3 separate regions of the Homo sapiens genome follow, and all the other regions are linked to region 1. Evidence: fine-mapped QTL for protein levels in blood plasma. Region 1 holds a variant in brackets. A gene starts in each other region. All regions are shown on their reverse strands.

Region 1 (5,228 bases):
TGGGAGACCTTTGTAAATTGTAATCTTTGGAAATCCCAAACCTATTGGATGTAATCCCATCCATTAGATGAAGGCAACTTGCCTATGCAATAGTTCCAGAAGAGCAAGTTAAATTGAGAACATGAACAGGAAGTAGTCATTAAGAATTACAATGGGTAGGATGCAGAGTTAATTCAGAGAGATATTTTGTTATTAGATAATTACATCACTAGGACAGCTGGAAAACTGAGTGCTGTGCTGGACTGCAAGCCTTGTTCTCTGCCCTGCAGCTGGCGGGTCAGGACAATAGAGACAGCAAGAGAACTTACTTTGTGGGAGAGTTAGGGGCTTGGCCAACTTAATTGTGAAATGATAACGACCTATCTGCCTTTTTTGGATTGCATTTTGCACAGCTAAACTGAAGGCATAGCCTTAGTTAATGCCAATAACCAGTTTGCACTTTGACTTTTTGAACATTCACTTGGATCACATTATGCTAAGCTCTAATGGATAAATATTTAATGGTAATTTTCCTTTCCTTTAAAAGTCATCTGAGATATTTTGTTCATATTCAATACATTGTGATTACATTTTTCTTATGGAACTGCTGTCATGTAATTCTTGAAATGGTATTTTTGTCAGGTTACAGATTAGCAAAAATTTTTAAAAAAAGGTTTTAGAAAGTCTTAAAATATTGGTCAATATAAGGAATCATGCAGTTGTAGCTATTTTCCAGTTTTTTGGGGTTTTTTTGGTTTTTTTTGTTGTTGTTGTTGTTTTTTGTTTTTTTGTTTTTTTTTTTTTTTTGAGATGGAGTCTCGCTCATTGCCCAGGCTGGATGGAGTGCAGTGGCACGGTCTCGGCTCACTGCAAGCTCTGCCTCTCAGGTTCACGCCATTCTCCTGCCTCAGCCTCCCAAGTAGCTGGGACTACAGGCGCCTGCCACCACGCCCGGCTAATTTTTTTGTATTTTTAATAGAGATGGGGTTTCACCGTGTTAGCCAGGTTGGTCTCGATCTCCTGACCTCGTGAGCCGCCCTCCTCGGGCTCCCAAAGTGCTAGGATTACAGGTGTGAGCCACCGCGCCCAGCCTATTTTCCAGTTTTTACATTCAAGTGTTCAGACCTGTCTGGCTCTTTTGTTTTGCAAGTGTAAGGGTTCTAGGTAGCCTAGCCCCATTCCTTATTGATTTATATAAATACATTACAGATTGTTTACCTCTAGCCAAATACCAGGGATTTTAATTCATGCTTAGCTCAGTTGTTGTATATGAAACTCATTTGTTATATTAAAGTTTCTGGCCGGGCACAGTGGCTCACGCCTGTAATCCCAGCACTTTGGGAGGCCAAGGCAGGTGGATCACTTGAGGTCAGGAGTTCGAGGCCAGCCTGGCCAACATGGTGAAACCCATCCTTACTAAAAATACAAAAATTAGCCAGGCATGATGGTGCATGCCTGTAGTCCCAGCTACTCGGGAGGCTGAGGCAGGAGAATCACTTGAACCCAGGAGGTTGCAGTGAGCCAAGATTGCACCACTGCACTCCAGCCTGGACAACAGAGTGAGACTCCATCTTAAAAGAAAAATAAGAATAAAAATAAAGTTTCTGTTTTCTCTTTATTGCCCACCAAAGTGACTATTATTTGATTTGGGGCAATTCCAGAGGGAGTCATTGTAGACAAAAAAAAGCATCATAAATATTATAGTCTAGCATTTCTAAGATTAATGTTTACAACCATTGATTCAAAATGCATTTCCTACCCATTGTGACTAATATAACTGTTAATTTTTAGTACAATGTTTACTAACCATTAATCAGACATAATTTAAGTCAGACAAAATTTCATAGTTTTGGGAAGAGCAATATTTCCCCAGATGTCTTCCATGGAGTACTAGGTCTGTAGGATGTGGATGGCTAGCCAGCACTGGAGCCAAAAAAGAGAGTATCCTACAGGCACCCTTAGGACTCTGATGTCCCTTGATGCCCTTTGTGAATGTCTGAGAAGTCTCTAATATGCTCCATTTCCTGAATGAAGTTAATAATAATGGCACCTTAAAAATTAAAAAGGATTATTTCCTTGAACCTGGAGGAGTCACTTCTACCTAATACCATTTTTTAAGAATATGCAAGTATATACATTAAAATTTATGTGAAAATGTTCTGCTCTATGGACTATTACACATCTCTTTAAAATTCCATGTTTTAAAAACTACCGATTGAAATGAGTCCTTTTTTCTCCAAGGTTTATCATTTAGGACAATTAGTAGTGGCTTCAGTGAGCTCACCTTTCGTATCTTGAGCATCCATTGAAACTGAGGCCTGGAGTCCAGTTGCTGCAGGTGGCATCAGTGAGTCTTAATATTTTGAAGAGAGCAGTATAACTCTGAGGAAAGCAACTTGGGTGGGTTAGATGTTATTTTTAAATTGTGTCATGCAAAGAGTGCTTGAAAACGGTTTCAGTGAGATGAAGCAACAGGGCATACTGCCAGGGTTGTTAGGTAACTTCTAAGACAAC[G/A]GTCCAGGGGGCAGATGACTTTTTGTTTCAGCAGTATTTTAGGATCACTTTATTCTCCAGTTATGCCCCCGTCAGAATTTTTTCTCTTTTGGAAATTACTATAATATCTTATATATATATATATATATATATGATAAACTATAAATGCAGTAAGAACTGGAGTTACTAAAATTACTATTGATTCCAGGTAGTGGTAAGCAATGTAATTTTTTCACTAAATATATTAATTATAATGGGAAATATTTTTAAAGTAATGTTTCAGAAACACAACTGAAATGGTCATAGTATGAAACAGCTCTGTGTTTGTATTTGACTTTAGGGACATGCCATTTTTGGTTCACTGCTCTTTTATTTTATTACAAAAATACAAGCAACAGATATAAAGAAAGTTGGGGATTGTGGAACTCCATTTTCTTTTTCAATAGGAAGAAAAGAGTGAAGTTGTCCAAGTATGTGGATTTAATAGCAATAAGCTGGCTTAAAAAAGCCTGTGAATAGTTGTAGTTATCTTGAATTATCAAGGCAAAAGAACTGTTTTGATAAATTTTCCACATATTAAATCCATGCATGATAGCAATCATATTTTTAGAGTGTGAGACTTAATATGATTTATGGTACTATCTTTAATAAATCTGTTAAGAGTTTTTACTTTATTGGAATAATTTTCCAGAATAAGTAACATTAGGGGAAAATATTAAGTTTAGGAATGGATATTAAAACTTAAAAACCAGAATGTTTAGAAGTAGATAAATGTGAGGAAAAAATTTTCAATGGATTCTGGTTAATTTTAATGGAGTTGTATAATTCACCCCAAACTGCCCATAATTAAAAAGAAGCTTGGATCTGGCTATGAAGCATGTGTAGTTGTTGGTGTTCTGTTTTTTGACCTGCCAGATTTAACCTAATTACAGTGGTGGGGTTTTTTTGTTAAGTGTTTTTTGTTTTTGGTTTTGGTTTTTTTTTTTCGTTTCCTTTAAAATTTAGTATAGATTCACAGAGAAGTCCAAATGTGGGGTCCATAAAGCCCAGAAATGCAGAAGGATGACATGGTGAACCAGCAAGGCATTAAAAGTTTAACAGAGGTCCTAGGAATACAACCCAAAAGGGATGTGAAGGACCTCTTTAAGGAGAACCACAAACCAGTGCTCAAGGAAATAAGAGAGGACATAAACAAATGGAAAAACATTCCATGCTCATGGACACAAAGAATCAATATTGTGAAAATCGCCATACTGCCTAAAGTAATTTATATATTCAATGCTATCCCCATCCAGCTACCATTGACTTTCTTCACAGAATTAGAAAAAACTACTTTAAATTTCATATGGAACCAAAAAAGAGTCTGTATAGCCAAGACAATCCTAAGCAAAAAGAACAAAGCTGGAGGCATCATGCTACCTGACTTTAAACTATACTACAAGGCTACAGTAACCAAAACAGCATGGTACTGGTACCAAAACAAATATATAGACCAATGGAACAGAACAGAGGCCTCAGAAATAATGCCACATGGCTGGGCACGGTGGCTCACACCTGTAATCCCAACACTTCAGGAGGCCGAGGTGGGCAGGTCACCTAAGGTCAGGAGTTTGAGACCAGTCTGACCAACATGGAGTAACCCCGTCTCTACTAAAAATATAAAATTAGCTGGGCGTGGTGGCCCATGCCTGTAATCCCAGCCACTCGGGTTGGGAGTAGTACTTGGCTGAGGCAGGAGAATCGCTTGAACCTGGGAGGCGGAGGTTGTGGTGAGCCAAGATGTGCCATTGCACTCCAGCCTGGGCAACAAGAGCGAAACTCCTTCACAAAAAGGAAAAAAAAACAAGAAAGAATGACACATATCTACAACCATCTGATCTTTGACAAACCTGACAAAAACAAGAAATGGGGAAATGATACCCTATTTAATAAATGATGTTGGGAAAACTGGCTAGCCATATGCAGAAAACTGAAACTGGACCCCTTCCTTATACCTTATACAAAAAGTAATTCAAGCTGGATTAAAGACTTAAACATAAGACCTAAAACCATAAAAACCCTAGAAAAAAACTTAGGCAGTACCATTCAGGACACAAGCATGGGCAAAGACTTCATGACTAAAACACCAAAAGCAACGGCAACAAAAGCCAAAATTGACAAATGGAATAAAATTAAAGAGCTTCTGCACAGCAAAAGAAACTATCATCAGTGAACGGGCAACCTACAGAATGGGAGAAAATTTTTGCAATCTATCCATCTGACAAAGGGCTAATATCCAGAATCTACAGGGAACTTAAAACAAATTTACAAGAAAAAAACAACCCCATCAAAAAGTGGACAAAGGATATGAACAGACATTTTCTCAAAAGAAGACATTTATGAGGCCAACAAACATATGAAAAAAAAGCTCATCATCACTGTTCATTAGAGAAATGCAAATCAAAACCACAATGAGATGCCATCTCACACCAGTTAGAATGGCAATCATTAAAAAGTCAGGAAACAACAGATGCTGGAGAGGATGTGGAGAAACAGGAATGCTTTTACACTGTTGGTGGGAGTGTAAATTAGTTCAACCATTGTGGAAGACAGTGTGGCAATTCCTTAAGGATCTAGAACCAGAAATACCATTTGATCCAGTGATCCCATTACTGAGTATATACCCAAAGGATTATAAATCATTCTACTGTAAAGACACATGCACACATATGTTTATTGCAGCACTGTTCACAATAGCAAAGACTTGGAATCAACCC
Region 2 (5,228 bases), not on the chromosome of region 1:
ATTGAGCTTGTTTATGTTAAAAGATATTCATTGCAGTACTTCTCAAAATAGAAAACACATACTGTAATCTAATATTTACATGTATATTATCAATAGTGGAAATTCTAAATTATGGTCCCTTCACACAATGATATTCTGTATAGTAATTAAATAAGCATGTAATCAGTATATATTGATGCAAAAAATCTCTAAGAAATATTGTTACCTAAAAAGGTAATTCAATAGGATCACACTGTGATTACAGTTTGCCATGGTAGGGTGATGAGATAAAGTAAAACTTTAATTTTAATTTAAACATTTCCACACTTGTTCTATATATCTATCAAAAATATTATTTAATATTATCACAATACAAATCCACTGGTGTCACTTAAGTCAAACATAAAATGGGACAGTTAGAGCCTCTGATACAGCATAAGCCTAAATGCTTTTTCTACATCTTCCTTTTCTCTTTTTTCTTTAAAAGAATCTTCTCATATTACTCTCTTTCTTTTCATCTTATTTCTCTTTTATATATTTTATCTCCCCTCTTGGTCCAATATACATTTTATAAAGAAGTTTCTGTTATCCAACTTATTTGACTCTATGTCCTTCCTCTTCACCAACGTCATTTTTATTTCCTTCCACCTCCTTCTCCCCGTCATCATCAACAATCTTTAAAACTACCATCAATTCATATGTTTTAAATTAGTATAATTCCATCTGCTTCTTTGAAATGGAAAGGAGAGAAAGTACTCACGTTTACTTTGAGGTTTTTCTAGCCCCATTGTCTAATTAGTCTCTTGTTCAATGGTCAGGACGGCAAGAATTTGTTCTATTTTTTTTCCCCCAGAGTATATTTCTGTGGATAGGGGAATATATTCAGAAATACTTGAGATCGAACACCAATGTTACATATTGTAGTGAGATTAGAAAGGTACCAGTATAAGAAAGTTAGCTCAAAAGAAGTCTTTTTCAAAGACAGGGGTTTCCTTTGATACATTCCGGGAGATGAGGCGAAAAAAAAAAAAAAAGGAAATTGAGAAAGCAATACCAAACAACAGTTAGTAGAAACCCACAAGTATGTTGAGATCACTAGATCAGTGTGAAATGTGGAATTTCTCAATTTGTTTTTTTTTTCATTTAGACAAAAAATTTAGCAACGCCCTAAAAGAAATAATTGTTATGCCCAATAAAAATTTAGTAAATGTCCCCTCTTTTTAAATTCTTTTTGTGAATATTATATTTTCAAAGGCAGTTATATTCTTGGGGTGAGTTCTATACTAAAAAGTTCTCTGGACTGAATAAAAAGTTGAGTCTAAGAGAGCAAAAGACAATGTGAACAATGAACAAAAACTTTTAAAGTATACCTTGTGTGTACATGGCATGTGAAGACACAGCAACCTTTGTTTTCGAGTTGAGGAAGAGATGATAGAGCAGTTAATTAAATCCCAAGAACTTTCTAGGTGAGCAAAAAGAGTTGTGTTAAGGCAAAGACAAAGAAAATGTAAGATTCTGTGATAAAGACACCATCAGGGTCCCTGACTTCATTTATAGCACTGTTAGGGAGTGAATGTCTGTATCTCCTCAAAATTCATTGGTGGAAGCACTACCCTCCAACGTAATGGCATTTGGAGGTCAAAAGTTTGGGAGGTAATTAGGTTTAATATGAGGTCATGAGAATGGGGTCCTCATGATGGAATTATAAGAAGAGACCCGGCTAACGAGCTGTTTACTTCCTGCGGGTGCTCAGGCTGTGGCCATCTTCCTTGCTGTTGCTCTTCTCATTGGAGAAGATGGCCCTGGAGACGGTGCTGAAGGACCTGTGGCATCTGTGGGCCTGTTTGCTGTGTTCACTGGTCAAGGTACTATAGACCAGTTTGAATATGATGGTTGTGACTATTGAGATGCATATCTACAGATGAAGGGTAACTGAGAGATGCTATATGGCTGCACCAGCTCCTCCTTTGATGGAATCATTGCGATGATGAGTCCAGAGGACAGCTGGGTCTCCAACTGGCAGCGAGTCAATAACTTTAAGCCAGGTGTATATGCGGTGTCAACCACTGGTCGCTTGCCCTAAGGAATCGTGCGGGAGCTGAAAAGTTGAGGAGTGGCCTACAAATCCAAAGACACAGCTATAAAGACCAGACGCAGGGCTGCCAGCGTCTTTGCTCTCCACCTCCTGCCTCTGCTTATTTTTTGTTCTGGAACTAAATGGGCAGAGCTTCAAATGCTTCCTACCCTCCAATTCAGACTCAGCCAACTGTTGAGAGAACAGCACATCATTTTATCATTTTACCTTATTTGGACTTCAGGTGGGGGTGGGAGGGATTTGGGTTGGTGGATTAACAGATGGAATTGAGGAGAGAGTAGGATGCTGACTTTCCTACCTGTAGCCCAAGGCTGCGCCTTGCTCATGAAGAGGTCTAGGTCAAATGTCAATAAATAGAAACCTCTAGAAAGTTCTTAAGGCCATGACACCTGCCTCGCTTCCCTCTTCCTTTCTCTTAGGCACACAGTAAGAGCTTATTTGCCCTATAAGATACCTTCCCAGAGCAGCAGAGGCCCTTCCACTCCCTCTTGACTGTCTCAGCCTCCAGGATTGCAGCCTTTGTAGTGTGCTTCCTTGCTTCCTATCAGAAGGTGCTGTCCAGAGGCTCAGTAACCCCATCAGCTTGGTGGCCCTGGTGTCTTGTGCTTGTATCCTTCTGCCCTTGAGACCTGGCACAGCAGTATCCCTTGAAGAAATCCTGAGGCTTTGTCGTGCTCCTTGCTCCTTGACCATGTTTAATAATTCTTTTCCCCCTCTGCTCGTCAGTTTTCTTCTCTTTACTGCTCTTCCTATATCTTAGGCCAGTCTCACACACTCACATTTTACATTTTCCTTACTGGAGACCCTTGGGCCTTGGCCGACTGCTGGGTCCTAGTCTGCCTTGTTTGTGCCCCTGTAGGAGGCAGGTCCTTTTCTCCGCCGGCCCAGTAGGGGACCTTGGGTAACATCCCATTTTTCGGCCAAAGTGAGTTATTTGTTTTAGGATAAAAAATTTACTACAAATTCTCATTTACTTAAATTTCCACAGAAATCCTGTTAGTGTCCCCATTTTGATTTCCCTAAGTTCCTTGTTCTCCCTCTGTAAAAAAAGAATGATTACACCTTGCCTGTTTACCTCAGGAATGTTGTGATTGTAGAAACGAAGCTATGTGAAAATTATGCAGCCATAAAAAATGATGAGTTCATGTCCTTTGTAGGGACATGGATGAAGCTGGAAACCATCATTCTCAGCAAACTATCACAAGGACAGAAAACCAAACACCACATGTTCTCACTCATAGGTGGGAATTGAACAGTGAGAACACTTGGACACAGGAAGGGGAACATCACACACCGGGGCCTGTTGTGGGGTGGGGGGAGGGAGGAGAGATAGCACTGGGAGAATGAGGAGTTAATGGGTGCAGCACACCAACATGTCACATGTATACATATGTAACAAACCTGCACGTTGTGCACATGTACCCTAGAACTTAAAGTATAATAAAAAAATTTAAAAAAAAATTTAAAAAAAGAGAGAGAGAGGAAAAAAAAAGAGAGATGAGTTCTCCAGAAGGCAGTCATCTGCAAGGCTAGTAGAAAGCCCTCACTGGTAAAGTGGTTAATTTGACAGGACTCCAAGAACAAATTTACATGACCTGAAGGAGGACACTTTGGGATTCATCACAGAAGCCACATAACCTACAGAGAGCAAAGAAGAGCGACACAGAGCAGCTGCCCATCCAGGATTGCCATGGAGCCAAGGGAGGCTCCCCACAATGGGGAAATGATGAGTGACAGTCCCTAGGGACCCACACTTCTGCCATGCTGGCACTCTGATCTGAGACTTCCAGCTATTAGAACGGTGAGAAATAAATGTCTCTCTTTCATACCACCGGTCTATGGTATTCTGTTATAGTGGCCCAAGCTCACTAAGACAAGTACATAACAGCTTAGAGATCCTTTAAGAAAGATCTCTACAATTTCCAGAATATAGCCCTTTCCCTGAACTCTTCCCTAAGCTACAATATTACTTTAATGATATGTGTGTATATATATTCTGTGATCTTCAGTGAAATATTACTTTACTATGTTAAATTGGGGATGGGAGGAGGTAAAATTATAGATTTGGCAATCCATATATTTTCCGGCACCGCCAGTCACTACAAGAAGTATTCCAATAGCAACAATAGCACTAACCCACAAACTCGGATATGCAACCCTGGAAACTAGATTTTTGGTTAAAGTAATATTTATTTCTATCAAAAGGACCTGGGACTCCTAGAGAATACATAAATCCTGCTTAGAACAGGAAAAAAATAGAATAGGTCTGGTACATTCTGTTGTTCTCAGAAAGTGACTATAATTTCAAAAATATGAGGGAAACCCTACTCTAGAAACTTCTCAGAGCTGAATGAAAAGCTGTGTCCAAGACAGTTAAGATTACAAAAAGACAATATGAACAATAAGCAAAACCTCCATTAACCTTTATTTTTGAGTTGAAGAAGACGTGACAGAGCTGTTAATTAAATCCTAACATCTTCCTAGATAATAGAAATCAGGCTTGTTAAGGCAAAAAAAAGAAAAAAAAAAAGGAGAGAGAGATTCTGTAGTAAAGACACAATCTTTATCACAGGTAAAAGGTAAAGTGGTTAATTTGACAGGACTGCAAGAACAAATTCACATAATTTGAAGGAGGACACTTTGGGATTCATCACAGAAGTAACATAACCCACAGAGAGCAAAGAAGAGTGAGACAGGACAGCTGCCCACCCGGGATTGGCATGGAGCCAAGGGAGGCTCCCCACAACGAGGAAATGATGAGTGAGTGACAGTCCCTAGGGACCCACACTTCTGCCATGAACCCGTACAATCCTGGGCACAGGGGATGCCCCTGACAACCCCCCGAGTCCTGTCCTCCACCAGGCCTGCACTTACATGGAGAGCTGCATGGAGTCGAATTCATGGTGCTGAGGAGCAGACAGACTGCAGGCCTCCGCTAAACCTTGCCAGGCAAAGCCCACTGGCCTGGGCCCCCAGCACAGCCACTCCACCCCCGCCTGAGGACTTGGGCTGGTAGCAGCTCTGCATTTCTATGGGATGGAGCTCGCAGAGGTAACACAACAGGAACACCGTTTTTTTTTTTGCCACTTCCATAGCCCCCGCCCCTACTGCCTTCAGGCTGGGAAGAGGGTGAAGAGCCTAAGGACTATCACAG
Region 3 (5,228 bases), not on the chromosome of region 1:
GGTGGGCACCTGTAATCTCAGCTACTTGAGAGGCTAAGGCAGGAATATCACTTGAACCCAGGAGGCAGAGGTTGCAGTGAGCCGAGATTGTGCCACTGCACTCCAGCCTGGGCGCCAGAGTAAGACCTTGTCTCGAAAATAAAAATTAAAAAATAGGCCAGGCGCGGTGGCTCATGCATGTAATCCCAGCACTTTGGGAGGCTGAGGCGGGTGAATCGCTTGAGGCCAGGAGCTCAAGACCAACCTAGCCAACATGGTGAAACTCCTTCTCTACTAAAAATACAAAAATTAGCCAGGTATGGTGGCGAGCGCCTGTAGTCCCAGCTACGTGGGAGGCTGAGGCAGGAGAATCGCTTGAACCCAGGAGGCAGAGGTTGCGGTGAGCCGAGATTGCACCACTGCACTCCAGCCTGGGCAACAGAGCGAGACCCTGTCTCAAAAAAAAAAAAAGAAAGAAAGAAAGAAAAGAGAAGAGGGGAGAGGAGGGGAGGGGAGGGGAGGGGAGGGGAGGGGAGGGGAAGGGAAGGGAAGAAACGAAACCCTGGGGGGGATCTAGGAGCAGACAAGTCCCCTGCTCTGTGTTTTCATAATCTAGTATCCAGGAAGGGGTAAGCACCCTGCGTGTATCTGGTTGTAACTAACTACTCACAACTGCACTTGCCTGTGTGAAAACGTGAGCTTGTGATGATGCGTGACGTCAGGTAGGCGTCCCTGACTCTCCGTAACCCAACTTTGCCTGTGCCTTGGGGATTCCTCCTTGCAGGTAGGAAGTGAGGGGTACAGGTTCCAGCTCTGGGCTGAGACATGATTCAGGGTTCCACCCTGACCTGGGGCTCCTGGAGTCTTGGGGCCCTGGAGGGTCCCGTCCACTGCCCAGACTGACCCAGGTCCTCGATGAAGCCTCATTATGAGGACTGGGGGAAAAGGACCCAGCCACTTCCTGGGGAGGTCGGAGACCCCAGGGTGAGCGTCAAGGTAGCCTCAAAGATGAGACGTCACCTCTTGAAGGCAGCCATGAGCCTTGGGTGGGGACGTCACTAGAGGAAGTTCAGGCCCTATTTTCGGAGGAAGCAGTTGGAGACCCCATAGGAGGAAGGGCGATGGGGCAGTAGAAAGTCGCGGTGTCCCCGCCCCCTCCAGCAGCTACGCGCCCCACTCTCTTGGAGACGCTAGATCAGTCCCTCCGGGCCTACTAAAGAAACCACGCAGGGCTCAGATCCGCTCCATCATCATCATCATCATCATCATCATCATCTCCAGGTTTATTTCCAGCTCCCCCGCAACCCCTCCGGACCTGGAGCCGCCTCCGCCCGCGCTGTGCACGCGCTGCGCGCGACCTCAGGGCTGCACACGACAGCAGCGCGCTCCGGTCCAGTCCATGCCCGCGCACTGGCAGTGACATGTGGTCTCGGCGCGCACATCCCACGAGCCACAGGCGGAGCCACAAGTGCAGCCGGTGACGGCGAAGCCTGCAGCCCGGAACACAGGAGCGTGGACTCTGAGCTGGGAGGCTGAGGGTGGGAGCGGGAGGGGGGTGGGGAGCGCGGAGGGGGGTTGGGGGGGCGGGGGTGGGGACGGGGACGGCTGGAGGCTCCAACCACTGAATGGGCACTGGAGGCAGGGAGTGAGGGTGGACACCAGTGTCCAGATGGTGGGCGGAGAAGGCTGGGAGTCAGGACCAAGATCCTAGGGGAGTAGAGGCTGGACACGGGGAACGTGGCGGGGAGGGGGCATTCCCAGGGGACTTGGAACAGAAATGGGCGCCTGGACAACAGTCTCCTGCACTCACCTCGGGGGCAAGTAGCCAGGTCCCCCCTGGAGGTGACGCTCTGGCACTCCAGGCCAATGCTGCTTATTGCCCTAAATACTGGGGGGCAGGAGGAAAGGAGACAGGGGGAGCTGTGAGACCAAACGGTCCCTCCCCCATCCTCCCCTAGCCCTGTTGGTTTGGAGCTAGGTCCCTGTGGGCATAGGAGCTCACTGGCCTCCAGGACCCTGTCTTGAGTTGGGTGTTTTGGAGTAAGGGAAGGTTTGGAGTGAGAGCGGGGATTGGGTTTGGAGCCGTGGATAAGGTGGGGACAGTCGGAGGGGTTGGGAGTGGAGTTGGGGTTGAATTTATGATCTGGTTGGATTTGAGGATGAGATTTGGTGAGCGCTGGGGCTGGGTTGGAGTCAGGTCTGTGCCAGGGATCAGTGAGGTCTCTGAGACCCTTGGGGAGCTTGCCCAAGTGGGGGGTCCTCACTTAGGGAGCCGGCGACCTCCTGGATCCTCTCATTGATGGCTTCTTCCATGGAGCACAGGGTCTTGCTAGACACCAACAGCCCCAGGACAGGGAGGAGGAGGAGACAGAGAGCTTTCATCCTGCAGGCGCTGAAAGAGGGAACCAAGAGACCCACAGCTGGATCAGCCCTGCCCTGTGGGGAAGATCCGGCCCATGGAGGGAGTAGGATCTGCCCCTGGACCTGGACCCCTGTCCCCCCATGTGGGGGACAGGGATGGAGGCTCAGCCTTGACCCCAGCCTCCCCGCTGGTGCCATGGCAAGCGCAGGAGCAGCTGTCACTTACCCTCTCGGTGGGCTCAGCTAACCAAATCCGGCACACGAATTCCTGCACCGCAGCTCTTTCTTTGAGGCCTCTTGGGGTGGGGCTTCCTGGCTTGGCTAATAAGTCCCTGGGCCCCCAACCCTCCGGTCCCACATCCGGGGCCAAGAGGAAGCCCCTGAGCAGACAGTAAGGGCTGGAGGAGGAAGGGAGCCTTCCCACTTCCAACAGGGCCTCCGTCTTCATGTCCAGAGACTGGTCAGGAGGTGGTGCCCCAGGGATAATGCCAGGGGCTGTGGTCTGAGGAACAGGTAGACAAGCAGAGTTTTGCATGCAAGGGTGGCTGATGCAAACATGACAAAATTAATGCCTCTTGCTAGGCATGGTGCGGACAAGCACTTGTAGTCCCAGCTACTAAGGAGGCTGACGTGAGAGAATTGCTTGAGCCCGGGAGTTCGAAGCTACAGTGACTTATGATCACAGCACTGCACTCCAGTCTGGGCAACAGAGCAAGACCACTTCTCTAAAATAGTAATAATAATTATGTCTCTGGGTGAGAATGACATACCACATTCATACCCAAATGCCCATGAGCAATAGAACTGGTAAATAAAATCATGGTTTATGGCCGGTGGCTCACGCCTGTAATCCCAGCACTTTGGGAGGCCAAGGCGGGCGGATCACTTGAGGTCAGGAGCTTGAGACCAACCTGGCCAACATGATGAAACCCTGTCTCCATTAGACATACAAAAATTAACTGGGCGTGGTGGCGTGTGCCTGTAATCCCAGCTACTTGGGAGGCTGAGGTGGGAGAATCACTTGAACCCGGGATGTGGAGGTTGCAGTGCACTGAGATCGTGCCCCTGCACTCCATCCTGGATGACTAGCTTGGGCACCATAGCAAGACTCCATCTCAAAAAGAAGAAAGAAAAATCATGGTTTATTCCATCAATGGCATCACCTGCAACAGAAGTTGGAAAGCCATTGCTCATGGGCCAAGGTCCAGCTCATGTTTCTTCTTGGACCACCCATGAGCTTGGAATGGTTATTACATTTTTATTTGTTCTTTGTTTCCAGTACAACGGGCCTTTTTGTGGTAAAATACATATAACATACAACTTACCATTATAACTTACTTTTTTCTTTTTTGAGACGGAATCTTGCTCTGTCGCCCAGGCTGGAGTGCAGTGGCGCGATCTCGGCTCACTACAAGCTCCGCCTCCTGGGTTCACGCCATTCTCCTGCTTCAGCCTCCCAAGTAGCTGGGACTACAGGCGCCTGCCACCACGCCCAGCTAATTTTTTGTATTTTTTTTTTTTTAGTAGAGATGGAGTTTCACCGTGTTAGCCAGGATGGTCTCGATCCCCTGACCTTGTGATCTGCCCGCCTTGGCCTCCCAAAGTGCTGGGATTACAGGCGTGAACCACCGTGCCCGGCCTTTTTTTTTTTTTTTTTGAGACGGGGTCTTGCTATGTTGCCCAAGCTAGTGTCAGACTCCTGGCTTCAAGTAATCCTCCCACCTTGGACTCCCCAGTAGCTGAAGCTACAGGTATGCACCATCTTGTTCCATTTTAACCATTGCTTTTGTTTGTTTCTTTGTTTCAGAGTCTCACTCAGTTGCTCAGGCTGGAGTACAGTGGCTCAATCTTGGCTCACTGCAACCTCCACCTCCTGGGTTCAAGCAATTCTCCTGCCTCAGCCTCCCGAGTAGCTGGGATTACAGGCGTGCACCACCATGCCCGGCTAATTTTTTGTATTTTTAGTAGAGATGGGGTTTCACCATGTTGGCCAGGCTGGTCTCAAATTCCTGACCTCAAGTGATCCACCCGCCTCAGCCTCCCAAAGTGCCGGGATTACAGGTGTGAGCCACCATGCCCAGCCTATTTTAACCATTTTTCAGAGCACAATTCTGTGGCAATAAGCACATTCATGTTGTTATGTAGCCACCACTGCCGTCCATCTCCAGAACTTTCTCCTCTTTCCAAACTGAAACTCTGTCCCCATGAAACACTCACTCCCTATCCCTCTCCCCAGCCCCTGGCACCCTCCATCTTGCTTTCTGCCTCTATGGATCTGATGACTCTAGGGACCTCCTAGGAGTGGAATCACACAGTGTTTGTCCTTTTGTATCTGCTTATTTCACTGAGCATAATATCCCCAAGGTTCATCCCTGCTGTAGCCTGAGTCAGAACTGTTTTCCTTTCCATGGCTGTATCACATTCCCTTGTGTGGATGAACCACGTTGTGTTTATTCCTTCATCCATCGATGGACACTTGGGTTGCTTCCAGCTTTTGTTTTGTTTTTTTGTTTGTTTGTTTGTTTTTGTTAGTTCACGTCTTTTGTGGGTTTTCTTTCTTTTTTGAGATGGAGTCTCACTCTGTTGCCCTGGCTGGAGTGCAGTGGCACGATCTCGGCTCACTGCAAGCTCCGCCTCCCGGGTTCACTCCATTCTCCTGCCTCAGCCTCCCGAGTAGCTGGGACTATAGGCGCCCGCCACCATGCCCAGCTAATTTTTTTGTATTTTTAGTAGAGACGGGGTTTCACCATGTTAGCCAGGATGGTCTCGATCTCCTGACCTTGTGATCCGCCCGTCTCGGCCTCCCAAAGTGCTGGGATTACAGGTGTAAGCCACTGCGCCTGGCCGTCTTTTGTTAATTCATACAGTTATTTGTCTTCTGGTTTGTT

Which allele goes with the higher level. Alleles are on the strand shown, and positions count from the first base shown. The strength of an association depends on the size of the effect and on how common the allele is.
With allele G in place of A in region 1, the plasma level of the protein whose gene starts at base 997 in region 2 is higher (weak association).
For the plasma level of the protein whose gene starts at base 2,639 in region 3, A is the low allele of the variant in region 1 and G is the other (weak association).

The links. PIP is the chance, under the fine-mapping model, that this variant and not a neighbour inherited with it causes the effect. Protein levels are from antibody-based Olink assays in UK Biobank. Linkage for the fine-mapping came from a reference panel and not from the study's own genotypes, which makes the PIPs less certain.
Region 2: CLEC4D starts here. The variant in region 1 is fine-mapped to the plasma level of the CLEC4D protein (UK Biobank, PIP above 0.99).
Region 3: RETN starts here. The variant in region 1 is fine-mapped to the plasma level of the RETN protein (UK Biobank, PIP above 0.99).

What each region holds. Positions count from the first base shown.
Region 1 is chr7:92,776,322-92,781,549 of GRCh38, reverse strand. All of the region lies in intron 2 of CDK6 (cyclin dependent kinase 6), which reads left to right. Among named protein-coding and RNA genes, the nearest start is that of CDK6-AS1, 58 kb to the left of the region's middle. The variant G/A (reference allele first, on the strand shown) is at 2,494.
Region 2 is chr12:8,509,272-8,514,499 of GRCh38, reverse strand. It overlaps CLEC4D (C-type lectin domain family 4 member D), which reads right to left and starts at 997. Exons shown (of 6, transcript NM_080387.5): 1 at 740-997. The coding sequence starts at 767. It also overlaps the pseudogene SUPT4H1P2.
Region 3 is chr19:7,666,460-7,671,687 of GRCh38, reverse strand. It overlaps RETN (resistin), which reads right to left and starts at 2,639. Exons shown (of 4, transcript NM_020415.4): 1 at 2,567-2,639; 2 at 2,244-2,371; 3 at 1,790-1,867; 4 at 1,233-1,469. The coding sequence starts at 2,361. The coding sequence ends at 1,339. It also overlaps the pseudogene RPS27AP19.